Homo sapiens: one gene and its partners. The protein of the gene in region 1 interacts with the protein of each later gene in a biochemical or structural test. Each region holds a gene or a part of one and is shown in the gene's direction. Other genes may lie near its edges.

Region 1 (3,500 bases):
ATTTCCAATTTCATCCATGTCCCTACAAAGGACATGAACTCATCATTTTTTATGGCTGCATAGTATTCCATGGTGTATATGTGCCACATTTTCTTAATCCAGTCTATCATTGTTGGACATTTGGCTTGGTTCCAAGTCTTTGCTATTGTGAATAATGCCGCAATAAACATACGTGTGCATGTGTCTTTATAGCAGCATGATTTATAATCCTTTGGGTATATACCCAGTAATGGGATGGCTGGGTCAAATGGTATTTCTAGTTCTAGATCCCTGAGGAATCGCCACACTGACTTCCACAATGGTTGAACTAGTTTACAGTCCCACCAACAGTGTAAAAGTGTTCCTATTTCTCCACATCCTCTCCAGCACCTGTTGTTTCCTGACTTTTTAATGATTGCCATTCTAACTGGTGTGAGATGGTATCTCATTGTGGTTTTGATTTGCATTTCTCTGATGGCCAGTGATGATGAGCATTTTTTCATGTGTGTTTTGGCTGCATAAATGTCTTCTTTTGAGAAGTGTCTGTTCATGTCCTTCACCCACTTTTTGATGGGGTTGTTCGTTTTTTTCTTGTAAATTTGTTTGAGTTCATTGTAGATTCTGGATATTAGACCTTTGTCAGATGAGTAGGTTGTGAAAATTTTCTCCCATTTTGTAGGTTGCCTGTTCACTCTGATGGTAGTTTCTTTTGCTGTGCAGAAGCTCTTTACTTTAATTAGATCCCATTTGTCAATTTTGGCTTTTGTTGCCATTGCTTTTGGTGTTTTAGACATGAAGTCCTTGCCCATGCCTATGTCCTGAATGGTAATGCCTAGGTTTTCTTCTAGGGTTTTTATGGTTTTAGGTCTAACGTTTAAGTCTTTAATCCATGTTGAATTGATTTTTGTCTAAGGTGTAAGGAAGGGATCCAGTTTCAGCTTTCTACATATGGCTAGCCAGTTTTCCCAGCACCATTTATTAAATAGGGAATCCTTTCCCCATTGCTTGTTTTTCTCAGGTTTGTCAAAGATCAGATAGTTGTAGATATGTGACGTTATTTCTGAGGGCTCTGTTCTGTTCCATTGATCTATATCTCTGTTTTGGTACCGGTACCATGCTGTTTTGGTTACTGTCGCCTTGTAGTATAGTTTGAAGTCAGGTAGCGTGATGCCTCCAGCTTTGTTCTTTTGGCTTAGGATTGACTTGGCGATGCGGGCTCTTTTTTGGTTCCATATGAACTTTAAAGTAGTTTTTTGCAATTCTGTGAAGAAAGGCATTGGTAGCTTGATGGGGATGGCATTGAATCTGTAAATTACCTTGGGCAGTATGGCCATTTTCACAATATTGATTCTTCTTACCCATGAGCATGGAATGTTCTTCCATTTGTTTGTATCCTCTTTTATTTCCTTGAGCAGTGGTTTGTAGTTCTCCTTGAAGAGGTCCTTCACATCCCTTGGAAGTTGGATTCCTAGGTATTTTATTCTCTTTGAAGCAATTGTGAATGGGAGTTCACTCATGATTTGGCTCTCTGTTTGTCTGTTGTTGGTGTATAAGAATGCTTGTGATTTTTGTACATTGATTTTGTATCCTGAGACTTTGCTGAAGTTGCTTATCAGCTTAAGGAGATTTTGGGCTTAGACAATGGGGTTTTCTAGATATACAATCATGTCATCTGCAAACAGGGACAATTTGATTTCCTCTTTTCCTAATTGAATACCCTTTATTTCCTTCTCCTGCCTAATTGCCCTGGCCAGAACTTCCAACACTACGTTGAATAGGAGTGGTGAGAGAGGGCATCCCTGTCTTGTGCCAGTTTTCAAAGGGAATGCTTCCAGTTTTTGCCCATTCAGTATGATATTGGCTGTGGGTTTGTCATAGATAGCTCTTATTATTTTGAAATATGTCACATCAATACCTAATTTATTGAGAGTTTTTAGCATGAAGGGTTGTTGAATTTTGTCAAAGGCTTTTTCTGCATCTATTGAGATAATCATGTGGTTTTTGTCTTTGGCTCTGTTTATATGCTGGATTACATTTATTGATTTGCATATATTGAACCAGCCTTGCATCCCAGGGATGAAGCCCACTTGATCATGGTGGATAAGCTTTTTGATGTGCTGCTGGATTCGTTTTGCCAGTATTTTATTGAGGATTTTTGCATCCATGTTCATCAAGGATATTGGTCTAAAATTCTCTTTTTTGGTTGTGTCTCTGCCCAGCTTTGGTATCAGAATGATGCTGGCCTCATAAAATGAGTTAGGGAGGATTCCCTCTTTTTCTATTGATCGGAATAGTTTCAGAAGGAATGGTACCAGTTCCTCCTTTTACCTCTGCTAGAATTCAGCTGTGAATCCATCTGGTCCTGGACTCTTTTTGGTTGGTAAACTATTGATTATTGCCACAATTTCAGATCCTGTTATTGGTCTATTCAGAGATTCAACTTCTTCCTGGTTTAGTCTTGGGAGAGTGTATGTGTCAAGGAATTTATCCATTTCTTCTAGATTTTCTAGTTTATTTGCATGAGGTGTTTGTAGTATTCTCTGATGGTAGTTTGTATTTCTGTGGGATCGGTGGTGATATCCCTTTTATCATTTTTTATTGCATCTATTTGATTCTTCTCTCTTTTTTTCTTTATTAGTCTTGCTAGCGGTCTATCAATTTTGTTGATCCTTTCAAAAAACCAGCTCCTGGATTCATTAATTTTTTGAAGGGTTTTTTGTGTCTCTATTTCCTTCAGTTCTGCTCTGATTTTAGTTATTTCTTGCCTTCTGCTAGCTATTGAATGTGTTTGCTCTTGCTTTTCTAGTTCTTTTAATTGTGATGTTAGGGTGTCAATTTTGGATCTTTCCTGCTTTCTCTTGTGGGCATTTAGTGCTATAAATTTCCCTCTACACACTGCTTTGAATGTGTCCCAGAGACTCTGGTATGTTGTGTCTTTGTTCTTGTTGGTTTCAAAGAACATCTTTATTTCTGCCTTCATTTCATTATGTACCCAGTAGTCATTCAGGAGCAGGTTGTTCAGTTTCCATGTATTTGAGCGGTTTTGAGTGAGATTCTTAATCCTGAGTTCTAGTTTGATTGCACTGTGGTCTGAGAGATAGTTTGTTATAATCTCTCTTCTTTTACATTTGCTGAGGAGAGCTTTACTTCCAAGTATGTGGTCAATTTTGGAATAGGTGTGGTGTGGTGCTGAAAAAAATGTATATTCTGTTGATTTGGGGTGGAGAGTTCTGTAGATGTCTATTAGGTCCACTTGGTGCAGAGCTGAGTTCAATTCCTGGGTATCCTTGTTGACTTTCTGTCTCGTTGATCTGTCTAATGTTGACAGTGGGGTGTTAAAGTCTCCCATTATTAATGTGTGGGAGTCTAAGTCTCTTTGTAGGTCACTCAGGACTTGCTTTATGAATCTGGGTGCTCCTGTGTTGGGTGCATATATATTTAGGATAGTTAGCTCTTCTTGTTGAATGGATCCCTTTACCATTATGTAATGGCCTTCTTTGTCTCTTTTGATCTTTGTTGGT
Region 2 (3,500 bases), on another chromosome or scaffold:
GAAAAATCACTTACACGTATATTTCTTAAATGCTGATCATTCTTTCTGGTATTAGAGAAAACACTGGCTGCTTCCTAGTCATTTATTTTAAATGGACGGATCAATTCAATAAGTATTGAACACATGTTACTTGCTGGTACTATCCTAGGTATCGCATGGATACAGAAAAGAAGCAAAACCCTTTGGCAATGTTGGGAGGCACTTGGAAAATCTTTCACACAGTGATGTTGAATAGAAGCTTTGAAACAGCTCCACTGAGAACAGATGATAGTAGTGTTTGTGTTAAATAAGCAAAGCAGTACAATAGAAAGCCTCAAAAAAGTAAGGATCACTTATTTATGTTTAGAATTGATTTTCTAATTTTACTTTATTCTGTAGGACACTGGAGTCACTAACAGGGATCTAATTAGTCGAAGAATAAAAGAATACAACAATCTGATGAGGTGAGAATCCCACCTTGCCTGCAGTTAATTTGGATATAAAATCAGTACAGTCATCCCCCTTATTTGCAAGGATACATTCCAAGACCCCCAGTGGATGCTTGAAACCGCAGATAGTACCAAATCCTCTCTACGCTATATTTTTTCCCATATAGTAATGGGCGGGTAGTGTATACAGTGTGGCTACTCGGGATGAAAGGATGATTCTTATTCTGGGCAGGACTACAAAATTGAAAGCTTATGAATTGTTTATTCCAAGAATTTTCCAGTTAATATTTTCAGACCATGGCTCACCACGGGTAACTGAAACCATAGATAGAGGGGGATTACTGTAATTGTTAACAAATGTCATTTCCTTCAACAGCAAAGCAGAACAGTTGCCAAAAACACCTCGCCAGAGTCTCAGCATCAGGCAAACTTTGCTTGGTGCTAAATCAGAGCCAAAGACTCAAAGCCCACACTCTCCGAAGGAAGAGTCGGAAAGGAAACTTCTCAGTAAAGGTATTGATGTTAGCTTTCTAACAAATAAATATAATGATTTAAAATTGGCATCGTTGAGGTACGTTTATGTTTTCTGTACCATTTCTACTGACCAGGCCCCATGTCAACTAGCTCAAAATTCATAGTAGGCTTGGTCTGGGCTCATTGGGCCTTTCCCTTTGTGAGGCCCAAGACACCAGCTTCATTATAAAGCGAAAGTGAGGGAAAATACAAACAATACTTAAATCAGAGACATTACAAATTTAAATGACTCCGAGGATTCAGGTCCTATCATTTTGAAATAAAACTATTACTTTTCCCTTTGTTGAAGTCTCACTATAAAGATGACACACTGATTCTATGTAGTTTTTTTTTTTGCTGTTTTAAAGAAAATTATAGCACGCATTATAAAAGAATGAAGTAAAAGTTATATGGAAGAGAACATATTTTTGTTAAATATAGGATGTATTATTTATATTACAGGACTTGGATTTATGTAAACATTGATAAAGTGTTTTTAAAGTCATGATTTAGACACTCATTTCCATTTTATTATGTTGTTTTATTTTGACTGGCAATCAAAAGATGATACCAGTCCCCCAAAAGACAAAGGCACATGGAGAAAAGGCATTCCAAGTATCATGAGAAAGACATTTGAGAAAAAGCCAACTGCTACAGGAACTTTCGGCGTCCGACTAGATGACTGCCCACCAGCTCATACTAATCGGGTAGGAGACACCAGCCCACCGGATTTCCTCAAGTCATTAATTCAGTTTTGATTATAATGGGATCTGAGTATATAGCCTTTCAGACAACAGAGACTGTCAATCTGTTTTCCTTTTCATAGCAGACCTTAGTTTCCCTAAGTATTTCTGACCTGTAATGCTTTTTTTCTAATGTATTGACTCCGAAATTGAATAATTATTCAACCATTAGGAATTTGTCTGAAATGGTCTGTAAGAATTCGTCTTCAAATCGTGTGTTTCTGCTTTTAGCATTTTAAAACAAGGATGAGAACAAGGACCTGATTAAGAAAGTATAATACATGTAAATGTATGTGCATATATTTAAAACACCCATGCTAGGATTCGTATCATGAATTGATATTACTCTCTCCTCCTCTTTTCTTGACTCTTTATTCAGCGGAACGGTTTCCACATTCTCTTTACCTGTTGTTACTTCCTTTTTAGAATGTTATCTCTCTGGGGGTCCCTCTCTTTCTTTCAGTCTCTTTGTTCTCTTCTTACTGTCTCAAATATCTCTTGCAGGTTTTATCTATTCCCAGATCTATAATGTCTGTATTCTTTATATTACATAACAGCAATTTATGTTTCCTTTTGGATGAAAGGGGCATTTTAGCTGTGATATACAACTACTAAACATTTGTGCTGCATTAAATAAAATGTTTATTTCTTGTTTTGCAGTATATTCCATTAATAGTTGACATATGTTGCAAATTAGTTGAAGAAAGAGGTCTTGAATATACAGGTATTTATAGAGTTCCTGGAAATAATGCAGCCATCTCAAGTATGCAAGAAGAACTCAACAAGGGAATGGCTGATATTGATATACAAGATGATGTAAGTTTGCTTATTTGAATAACTGATCCTTTTTTTTCCCCCTTTGGTGGAACTGGATATGAAAATACTATATTTCTATTTTGTACACCTAGAAATGGCGAGATTTGAATGTGATAAGCAGTTTACTAAAATCCTTCTTCAGAAAACTCCCTGAGCCTCTCTTCACAAATGGTGAGTTAACTCCCGTGAAAGATACCAGATGAAATGGTTCAAGTTACAATTGGAAAACCATAGAATATTAAATTGAACAAGGACAAAATGTCTTGGTCAAAGGAAGCAGGAGGCTTTATTTAGTTCTCCCTCATATATTAAAAACATAAAAGTTATTTAGGTTCAGTGAAATATGTATTATCTTGTTCATACATGTTTGCAGCCAAATTAATATTATTGTTTCCAGTCAAATGGCTTCTGACATCATAAGGTACAATGAGTAGAAAAATGTTTTTTCAGTCAAGCCAAGTATTTAAGTGCCATGTAAGACACTTTACTAGATGTTGTTGGAGGGTGGGGGAGGAATGGACAGGCTGTGTAAATATAGGATGGTTCCTGCAGGGAACTTACATTTTAGAAATTTACATTTCAAAACTATTAGAACTCTTTCCTATGTTGTGGTTTAAAATTGATCCTTAAAGGGAAACTAGATTACAATTCACCTAGGCAATTTAAGATAAATTTGTTTTATTGTTCTTGTCGTCAGATAAATATGCTGATTTTATTGAAGCCAATCGTAAAGAAGATCCTCTAGATCGTCTGAAAACATTAAAAAGACTAGTAGGTATTATTTTATATTTTGGGGGATACAACTAAAATTCAGCCTCTGAATCCATTGTGAAAATAATCTGTTTCAGATTCACGATTTGCCTGAACATCATTATGAAACACTTAAGTTCCTTTCAGCTCATCTGAAGACAGTGGCAGAAAATTCAGAAAAAAATAAGGTATGTAAAATGCTTATTGAAGAAATGTACTTTTAGTGGCTTTAGTTTAAAAGATATGCTTC
Region 3 (4,183 bases), on another chromosome or scaffold:
TGCAGCCTAGGAGAACAGCCCTTGTCCCACAATTGCCCCTCAGTAGCCCTCCGGCCTCTTCTGAAGCTTTAACCAAGTGCTTGAAAAGAACCGAAAGTGAGGAAATATTCCAACTAGAATGGATCCCTTTGTGCCAACAGCCTCCTTTAGAGTTCAGGAACACAGAGGAAATCGAGGAGGGCTGACTTTTCACCTTAGAACTCACAAGGCCCAAATGTGCCAATGTTTAACTGTCTCTCCGAGGTGCTTCTGACACCCGGAAATTCACCATGTATTTGGCATCACCAGGAGCTCCTCAACTCCACTGCTTCCTCCTGCTTCTCTCTTCCCTGGCCTTAACTTCACCACCCAGACCCACTGTCCAGCTTCCCAGTCTCTCTGGGTCCCCACTGAGGCTGCCCTTTTTGGGGAAGGAAGAGTGGCCTTTTTTCTTGGCCCTCAAAACTCCTCTGAAGGGGTCTGGAGCCCGCTGGGAGACCAAGAGCTTCTCTTGAATCTCGGCTGCTGCATGTTTAGTATTCACAGCATGTCTCTAAAAAACGTCCTGAGATCATTCATCAGGCACTGTGCTGTGTGCCTAGCTGCTCTCCTTCCGGGTGTGTGTGTGTGGCCAGGACCCTCCCTCCATCTGCTGGTGAACACACATGCACACACACCTTAACCTTTTTCCCTTTTCACCAAACCAATCGCATTTTCTAAGCAGACCTTTGCCAGCTGGCAGATCGCTCCCTTACTGAGGTGGGCTCCTGGCGTTGGGCCTGGGCTCGAAGCCGCTCACACTCCAGTGCTGGGGAGAGGCGCTGAGAGCAGGAGCCCGAGCCGAAACTCAAGGTGCGTGTGGATGTTTGCGATGGTGACCAGGAGGGGAGCTGCAGGGAGGGCATCCCCAGCAGAAGGCGAGCAAACAAGGGGCGAGAAGCAAGGTCAGGGGCCAGGGAACGGAGTCTCCGAAGCAAGCGTTCCTGCTGCCCCTTCTCCGCAGTTCACTCCCCGCCCCCCTTTCCCGGGTTCACTTTGGAAATTGGCTTGCCCTCTCGGCAGCCAGCAGTTCCCGGCAGAGTCCGGCCGTAACGGTCAGATTCAAGAAGTGAGGCAGCGCCAGGCTGGGTGGCTGGGTTGCTGGGTTGTTCTTGGGAGATTCTTTCCCCAATTGTCAATTTTTTGCTTATTTTTAGTAGTGACCCGAGCCAGGAACTGCGCCTTTAAGCCGCTTTCCCATTCGGGGAAATCGACGCCAGCACTCGAGGGTCGGGAGGCGCCGGAGAGGCCCCTCATTCTGCACTCCCCTCTTTCCTCCCCCTCCCCCTCCCCCCGCCCCTTCTCCCCTCCCCTCCTCGGCCGTCCGGCCGCCTCGCCGCCATCCGTCACCTCGCAGCCTGCCGCACTCCTGGAGCGAGAGAGCGACGAGCGAGCCACGGCGATGGTGCCGCCCGCGGCGCAGCCATGAAGCCCGCCCGAGGAGCCCGCGCGCGCTCCTGCCATCCTGCCCGCAGCCCGCCGCCTGCGCGCCAGCTCCCCGCGTCCCGGGCCAGCTGCTGCCGCCCTGCCAACCTCTGCCCGCCCCGCCGCCCGGCGCCACTGAGCCCCAAGCCCATGCCGGGCTCGGGGGCACGGGTGCCCTAGTCCCGCTGCCGCCGCCGCCGCCGCCGCCGCTGCGCCGCCGCTGCCGCGCCGCTGAGGAGGCGGAGGAGGAGGAGGAGGAGGAGGAAGAGGAGGAGGAAGAGGAGGGGGAGGAAGGTAAGAGGCGCGCTGCCTTCAGGGGGGCGCGCCCGCTGTCTCAGCCCAACCGGGGGTGGGTCGCGGCGGGAGCGTTCCGCCCCGGGCCGGCTGGGGGGCGACTGGCGCTTGGGCGCCCCCGGGAGCCGGGGGCAGGGCGGGGGGCGCCGAACGTCTGGCCGCCCGGAGTTTGGGCGGGCGGGGTAACGGCCCGTTGCGTGCCCACTGCCCCGGCGAGTCTCTGGCTTGGCGGGCTCGTTTGGCCTCCGCGGGTGCGGGGTGAGGAGTCGAGCGCAGGGGAGTGCAGCGCGTTCATTATGGAGCCTTTGTGTGCGCGCCTGGGCTGTGGGCACAGTTGGGAGAGCTGGCGAGACGCGGGGCCTGGCTGCTAGGAGGTGGCCACTTAGCCGGGGTGCCCGGCGAAGCCCGAGCCCAGGGGCTGCCAGAAACAGCTGTCTGAAGCATGTGCGTGGTTCCCGGGGCCATGTTCACAAGCGGACACGGAGGCGCACACACACGCACACACAGCCGCACAACATACCCGGCGCTCAGCCACACAGTCAGCCCCATGCAAAGACCACACACACACACACACACACACACACACACACACACACAGAGAGAGAGAGAGAGAGCGCGAGCTACACTTGCCCCCTCCCACCAAGATGCTAATAAAGCTCAAACACATATACAGATACATGCACCTCCCCCTAGCGCTGCTAAAACATGCACACACAAACACACTCCTCTACTCCCCAGCCTAGTGCTTTGGAGGTTGGAGAGTGTGTGTGTGTATGTGAGTGTGTGTGTGTTTTCTCAGAGTGGTCTTGAGAAACTACATGACAACTGCACATTACTGCAGATCCAGTACCTGCTGCTTCCCCCCAATACACACCCAGCAACCCCCCGTCACACGCAGCTACTGTAGACACCTCCACCAGAGCCCTTAAGAACCCCATTCTGGCAAAAAGCGTGCCCAACTCTGGTAGTCATACCCTCCACGCTCGAGCTGTTGGGTTTCCTGCACACACACACCACAGCCCCATACACACACACTGAAACCACTGCAGGGGCAAATGTTTGACACCTTCCCCCAGAAGCAGGTGGCACCTCCACCCTTGCAGCTGCAACTAAAGAGCCCCAGATGACAGCAAACGCCGAATTCTGCTAGACCTGCCCCTCCCCTTGGCATCTTGGTCCAGGTGCAAAACCCTGGAGTCCACCGGGTGGTCTTAGCATCCTGCAGCTCTTACGGAGGGCGGGGCAGTCTCTGGACTCCTGCCTTCGGAGGAACTGCTATAAGCGCAAGGCTCCCTTGGGGGCGCCCTTCTCGAAGTGGAGGGTGGGGGATTCTATGCTGACTCAGAGCGAAGCACCAAGTGAGTTTTCCCAGCTGGAGACCGGGGTAAATGGCGAACTCCACCTGGGCCTAGAGGACCCGGGATAGTGTGCCAGTTCAGCCACAGAGGCCCTCAGCTTGGAGGCCCTGCCCCTCCCTCGCCTTCCTTGCCCATGAAGCTCACTGCAGGAGAAGCAGGGGGAACCCAGCTGCCAGCTTCTTGGGAGCTAAGAGAGGCTTTTCGGGAAGCCTTTGCTGTTTCCGCTGAGCAAAGAGATCTTGCTCTACCCGGGGAGACCTCAACAAGACTTGGCCGTGCCCAAGCAAACATGCCAGCGTCTACCCAATTTCATGGCTTGTTTTTTTGTTTGTTTGTTTTTGTATTTCATGTGAAAGGACTAATTCAACCTTAGCAGCTTGTCATGAAGGCACCCCTGAGGTTAAATAAGGCATAATGTATTGTGGATGGGGGAAACAAGGTTGAGGGGAGCAAGGACTAGTGGGTTTTACTGTTTTAAGTAGAGATGCGGAGTTAGAATGTAGACCGTGGTAAAATCGTGACGGCGATGGCTTCTACGTCAGAGCCCCTTCCCTGCTCCTGCCCCTCCCGTCGGCTGCTCAGGGCTCCTCTGGGTCCTCTCCCCCGCCCCCTTAGATTATTTAGGCGGGGCTTTGCTCACTGCTCGGGCAAATTTGATGACAGAATCCCTGCCAGGCCAAGGTGTTAATAGCTGATAGAGGTTTACTGCTTACACCTCACAGGTAACATTTGCATTTTTAAAGGACACAGAGGAGTGACTCTGTTGGTGGGGCTTTCAGGCACCTGTGGCAGGACTCAGGCAGGAGCAGTTTGTGGACAACCTCATCTGTCTACTCTACTGTCTGTGCCTAGGCCAGAGTTATGGGTGATGTGTGTGTGGGAGTGAGGGTGTCAGAAGGTGAGATGTAATTGTGGAGGGTTTTGAGGCCCACAAAGAGAAGGTTTCAATTGACTTGAGAGGCAATTGGGAGCCACTGCCAGATTCTGAGAAAGGAGGGAATAAGATATAAGCAGGAAAGAAACACTCATTGCTGCATGTGGAGAGAATATCCCCTATCTCTCGCTGGCACCCAACACCACAACCGCCT
Region 4 (3,500 bases), on another chromosome or scaffold:
CCCAGGAAAGGCCCAGAAGGAGGGTGATAAAGCAGGGAGGGGTTCAGGCCCAAGTAATCTGATTCAGAAACCTCTGTGTTGTAATAACTCCTTCCACAGGAGGAATCATGAACTCACCCAGGTGGCACTCTTGATCCACTTAGAATGGCTCCAGCAACACATCTAGGGCAATCCAGTAGTAGATCTCTTTAGGTATGTGTATTAGTCCGTTTTCATGCTGCTGATAAAGACATACTCGAGACTGGGTAATTTATAAAGAAAAAAGAGGTTTCATGGACTCACAGTTCCACATGGCTGGGGAGGCCTCACAATCATGGTGGAAGGCAAAAGGCACGTCTTACGTGGCAGCAGGGAAGAGAGATGAGAACCAAGCAAACGGGGTTTCCCCTTATAAAACTATCAGATCTCATGAGACTTATTCACTACCATGAGAACAGTATGGGGAAAACTGCCCCCATGATTCAATTATCTCCCACGAGGTCCCTCGCACAACACGTAGGACTTATGGGAGCTACAATTCAAGGTGAGATTTGGGTGGGGACAGCCAAACCATATCAGTATGAAACCCGATTGAAAAAGCCGAGAGACAGACAGTGGCATACGGGGCATCTGATTCTCCACAGATGGGAGCCTCATGAGCTCAAAGGGAACTTCAGCAATCATCTCACCCACAGTCACAGACTTTTTCTTAAAGGGCCAGATAGTAAATGTTTGACTTGGGTGGCCATACCATCTCTGCCATGACTGCTAGACTGTCACTCTAGTGCAAAAGCAGCCATAGACAATTATGTCAGCGAATGAGCATGGCTGTGTTCTCATTCAACTTTTTTTATTATTATTTATAAAAATACCAGGCTGGATTCAGCCCATGGGCTATAGAGTGCCAACTTCTGAATAGTTCACTCTTTTTTGGGCAAGGCAGATAAAGGCCTCTTAAAAGTGATATCCAGCCAGGCTCAGTGGCTCACGCCTATAATCCCAGCATGTTGGGAGGCTGAGGCAGGAGGTTCACTTGAGGTCAGGATGAGGCCAGCCTGGCCAACATGGTGAAACCCAATCTCTACTAAAAATACCAAAATTAGCTGGGCATAGTGGCGCATTGCCTGTAATCCCAGCTACTCGGGAGGCAGAGGTTGCAGTGAACCTAGATCGTGCCACTGCACTCCAGCCTGGGAGACAGAGTGAGATTCTGTCTCAAAAAAAAAAAAAAAAAAAGTGATATCTTGCCCAAGCCAAACAGCTAGTTACTGTATCAGAAAGAACTCTTTTCACACTGAAAATCATTTTTCTATGGGACCTGTTAAACTCGTGTCTGGTCCAGCAAGCAGGTGGACCAGCTAAATCTACCTGACCCTCCTACACAGGTGTCCTACTGCACTGAAGGTAGCTGAGATGGATGAAAGAGTTTCACCCTGAAAAAAAAAAATCATGGATATTAAAGACTTCCCCAGATGTAGTGTAGGGTTGGAGGTCTGTTTAATGTAAGGGTTGGATAGTTTCCTGACTTAACAGCAAATCATTGGGCAGACTGCATTTTGATGACTCTTGGAGGAAGCCCTAGAAATATTTTCCCCCAAGGTAATGTCATTTTTAAAAAAACATAAATGAACATGAAAGGAAACTTCTAAGGCATGTGTTGGCTGCTCTTGCCTGCAGCTGGATGAGGGCTGGATGGATGATGACAGGAACGACTTTCTGGATGACCTGCACATGGACATGCTGGAGGAGCAGCACCACCAGGCCATGCAATTCACAGCTAGCGTGCTGCAGCAGGTAACGCCCACGCACCAGTCCCTGACACTCTGCCCTGCTGAGCTGGAGGAAAATCTGCTTCCTCCATCTCCCTTTATGGTGCTAAAGACCATCAGAAGTCCATCCACCTGGAAGGCAGCAAGAAAACAGCCTCAAGTACTTTTCTATTTGAGCACCAGACCAGTGAAATGCAAGCTGGTACTGTCCCTAGCTAAGCTTTTAAATCTAAGCAACATTGCCAAAGCAAAGCTGACCTTCTGATAATTTGTTTGGAAAACATATGCGTTGGCATTACCATAGATTGCAAAAAGCCATGTTTTCCAAAGTAAAGCAATCCCCTCTGTTTAACAGGAGCTGCTTGGAGCTCTCTAGCTCCCTGCTATGCTACTACCATTGTCAGAGTCTTAATGAGCCACTTATTGAGTCCTTATTGAGTTGAACAAGGACCTTTATACATCCTTCTACCTGTGTACTGATTCATTTAACAGAATCATTGAGAATCATTCATTGAGATAAAGTGACTATTATCCTCATTTTACAAAACTGAGGACAAGAACAAGAATAAGTGACTTGCCCAGGTAGATACGGGTAGGTGTAGCTAAGGCCCACGCTATTGACGTGGTCCTACTGTCAGATGCTGTCCCTTGGCCTTAGAAATGTACAGCCTGCCCTATCCAGAAACCGCAAGGAAAGGTCAAACCTGAGTACCTGCTGCGCAGGCCTCCCTCACTGTGACCCTTTGTTCTTGTGTTTATGCAGAAGAAGCACGACGAAGACGGTGGGACCACAGATACAGCCACCATCTTGTCCAACCAGCACGAGAAGGACAGCGGTGTGGGGCGGACCGACGAGAGCACCCGTAATGACGAGAGCTCGGAGCAAGAGAACAATGGCGACGACGCCACCGCATCCTCCAACCCGCTGGCGGGGCAGAGGAAGCTCACCTGCAGCCAGGACACCTTGGGCAGCGGCGACCTGCCCTTCAGCAACGAGTCTTTCATTTCGGCCGACTGCACGGACGCCGACTACCTGGGGATCCCGGTGGACGAGTGCGAGCGCTTCCGCGAGCTCCTGGAGCTCAAGTGCCAGGTGAAGAGCGCCACCCCTTACGGCCTGTACTACCCTAGCGGCCCCCTGGACGCCGGCAAGAGTGACCCTGAGAGCGTGGACAAGGAGCTGGAGCTGCTGAACGAAGAGCTGCGCAGCATCGAGCTGGAGTGCCTGAGCATCGTGCGCGCCCACAAGATGCAGCAGCTCAAGGAGCAGTACCGCGAGTCCTGGATGCTGCACAACAGCGGCTTCCGCAACTACAACACCAGCATCGACGTGCGCAGACACGAGCTCTCAGATATCACCGAGCTCCCGGAGAAATCCGACAAGGACAGCTCGAGCGCCTACAACACAGGCGAGAGCTGCCGCAGCACCCCGCTCACCCTGGAGATCTCCCCCGACAACTCCTTGAGGAGAGCGGCGGAGGGCATCAGCTGCCCGAGCAGCGAAGGGGCTGTGGGGACCACGGAAGCCTACGGGCCAGCCTCCAAGAATCTGCTCTCCATCACGGAAGATCCCGAAGTGGGCACCCCTACCTATAGCCCGTCCCTGAAGGAGCTGGACCCCAACCAGCCCCTGGAAAGCAAAGAGCGGAGAGCCAGCGACGGGAGCCGGAGCCCCACGCCCAGCCAGAAGCTGGGCAGCGCCTACCTGCCCTCCTATCACCACTCCCCATACAAGCACGCGCACATCCCGGC

Evidence for each region.
Region 2: the proteins of GPRC6A (region 1) and ARHGAP21 interact in a test that uses a peptide from one of them, tested with the Homo sapiens proteins (one large-scale study listed by IntAct).
Region 3: the proteins of GPRC6A (region 1) and FRMPD3 interact in a test that uses a peptide from one of them, tested with the Homo sapiens proteins (one large-scale study listed by IntAct).
Region 4: the proteins of GPRC6A (region 1) and PDZRN3 interact in a test that uses a peptide from one of them, tested with the Homo sapiens proteins (one large-scale study listed by IntAct).

Annotation. Positions count from the first base shown.
Region 1 is NC_000006.12:116,819,084-116,822,583, reverse strand, and holds part of GPRC6A (G-protein coupled receptor family C group 6 member A isoform 1 precursor), read left to right. Parts: intron 1-3,500. UniProt on the Homo sapiens protein: Receptor activated by multiple ligands, including osteocalcin (BGLAP), basic amino acids, and various cations. Activated by amino acids with a preference for basic amino acids such as L-Lys, L-Arg and L-ornithine but also by small and polar amino acids.
Region 2 is NC_000010.11:24,594,888-24,598,387, reverse strand, and holds part of ARHGAP21 (rho GTPase-activating protein 21), read left to right. Parts: intron 1-378; coding exon 379-443; intron 444-804; coding exon 805-941; intron 942-1,505; coding exon 1,506-1,648; intron 1,649-2,344; coding exon 2,345-2,500; intron 2,501-2,592; coding exon 2,593-2,671; intron 2,672-3,197; coding exon 3,198-3,271; intron 3,272-3,348; coding exon 3,349-3,438; intron 3,439-3,500. UniProt on the Homo sapiens protein: Functions as a GTPase-activating protein (GAP) for RHOA and CDC42. Downstream partner of ARF1 which may control Golgi apparatus structure and function. Also required for CTNNA1 recruitment to adherens junctions.
Region 3 is NC_000023.11:107,448,269-107,452,451, forward strand, and holds the start of FRMPD3 (FERM and PDZ domain-containing protein 3), read left to right. Parts: upstream 1-1,383; 5' UTR 1,384-1,737; intron 1,738-4,183.
Region 4 is NC_000003.12:73,383,942-73,387,441, reverse strand, and holds part of PDZRN3 (E3 ubiquitin-protein ligase PDZRN3), read left to right. Parts: intron 1-1,656; coding exon 1,657-1,773; intron 1,774-2,511; coding exon 2,512-3,500. UniProt on the Homo sapiens protein: E3 ubiquitin-protein ligase. Plays an important role in regulating the surface level of MUSK on myotubes. Mediates the ubiquitination of MUSK, promoting its endocytosis and lysosomal degradation. Might contribute to terminal myogenic differentiation.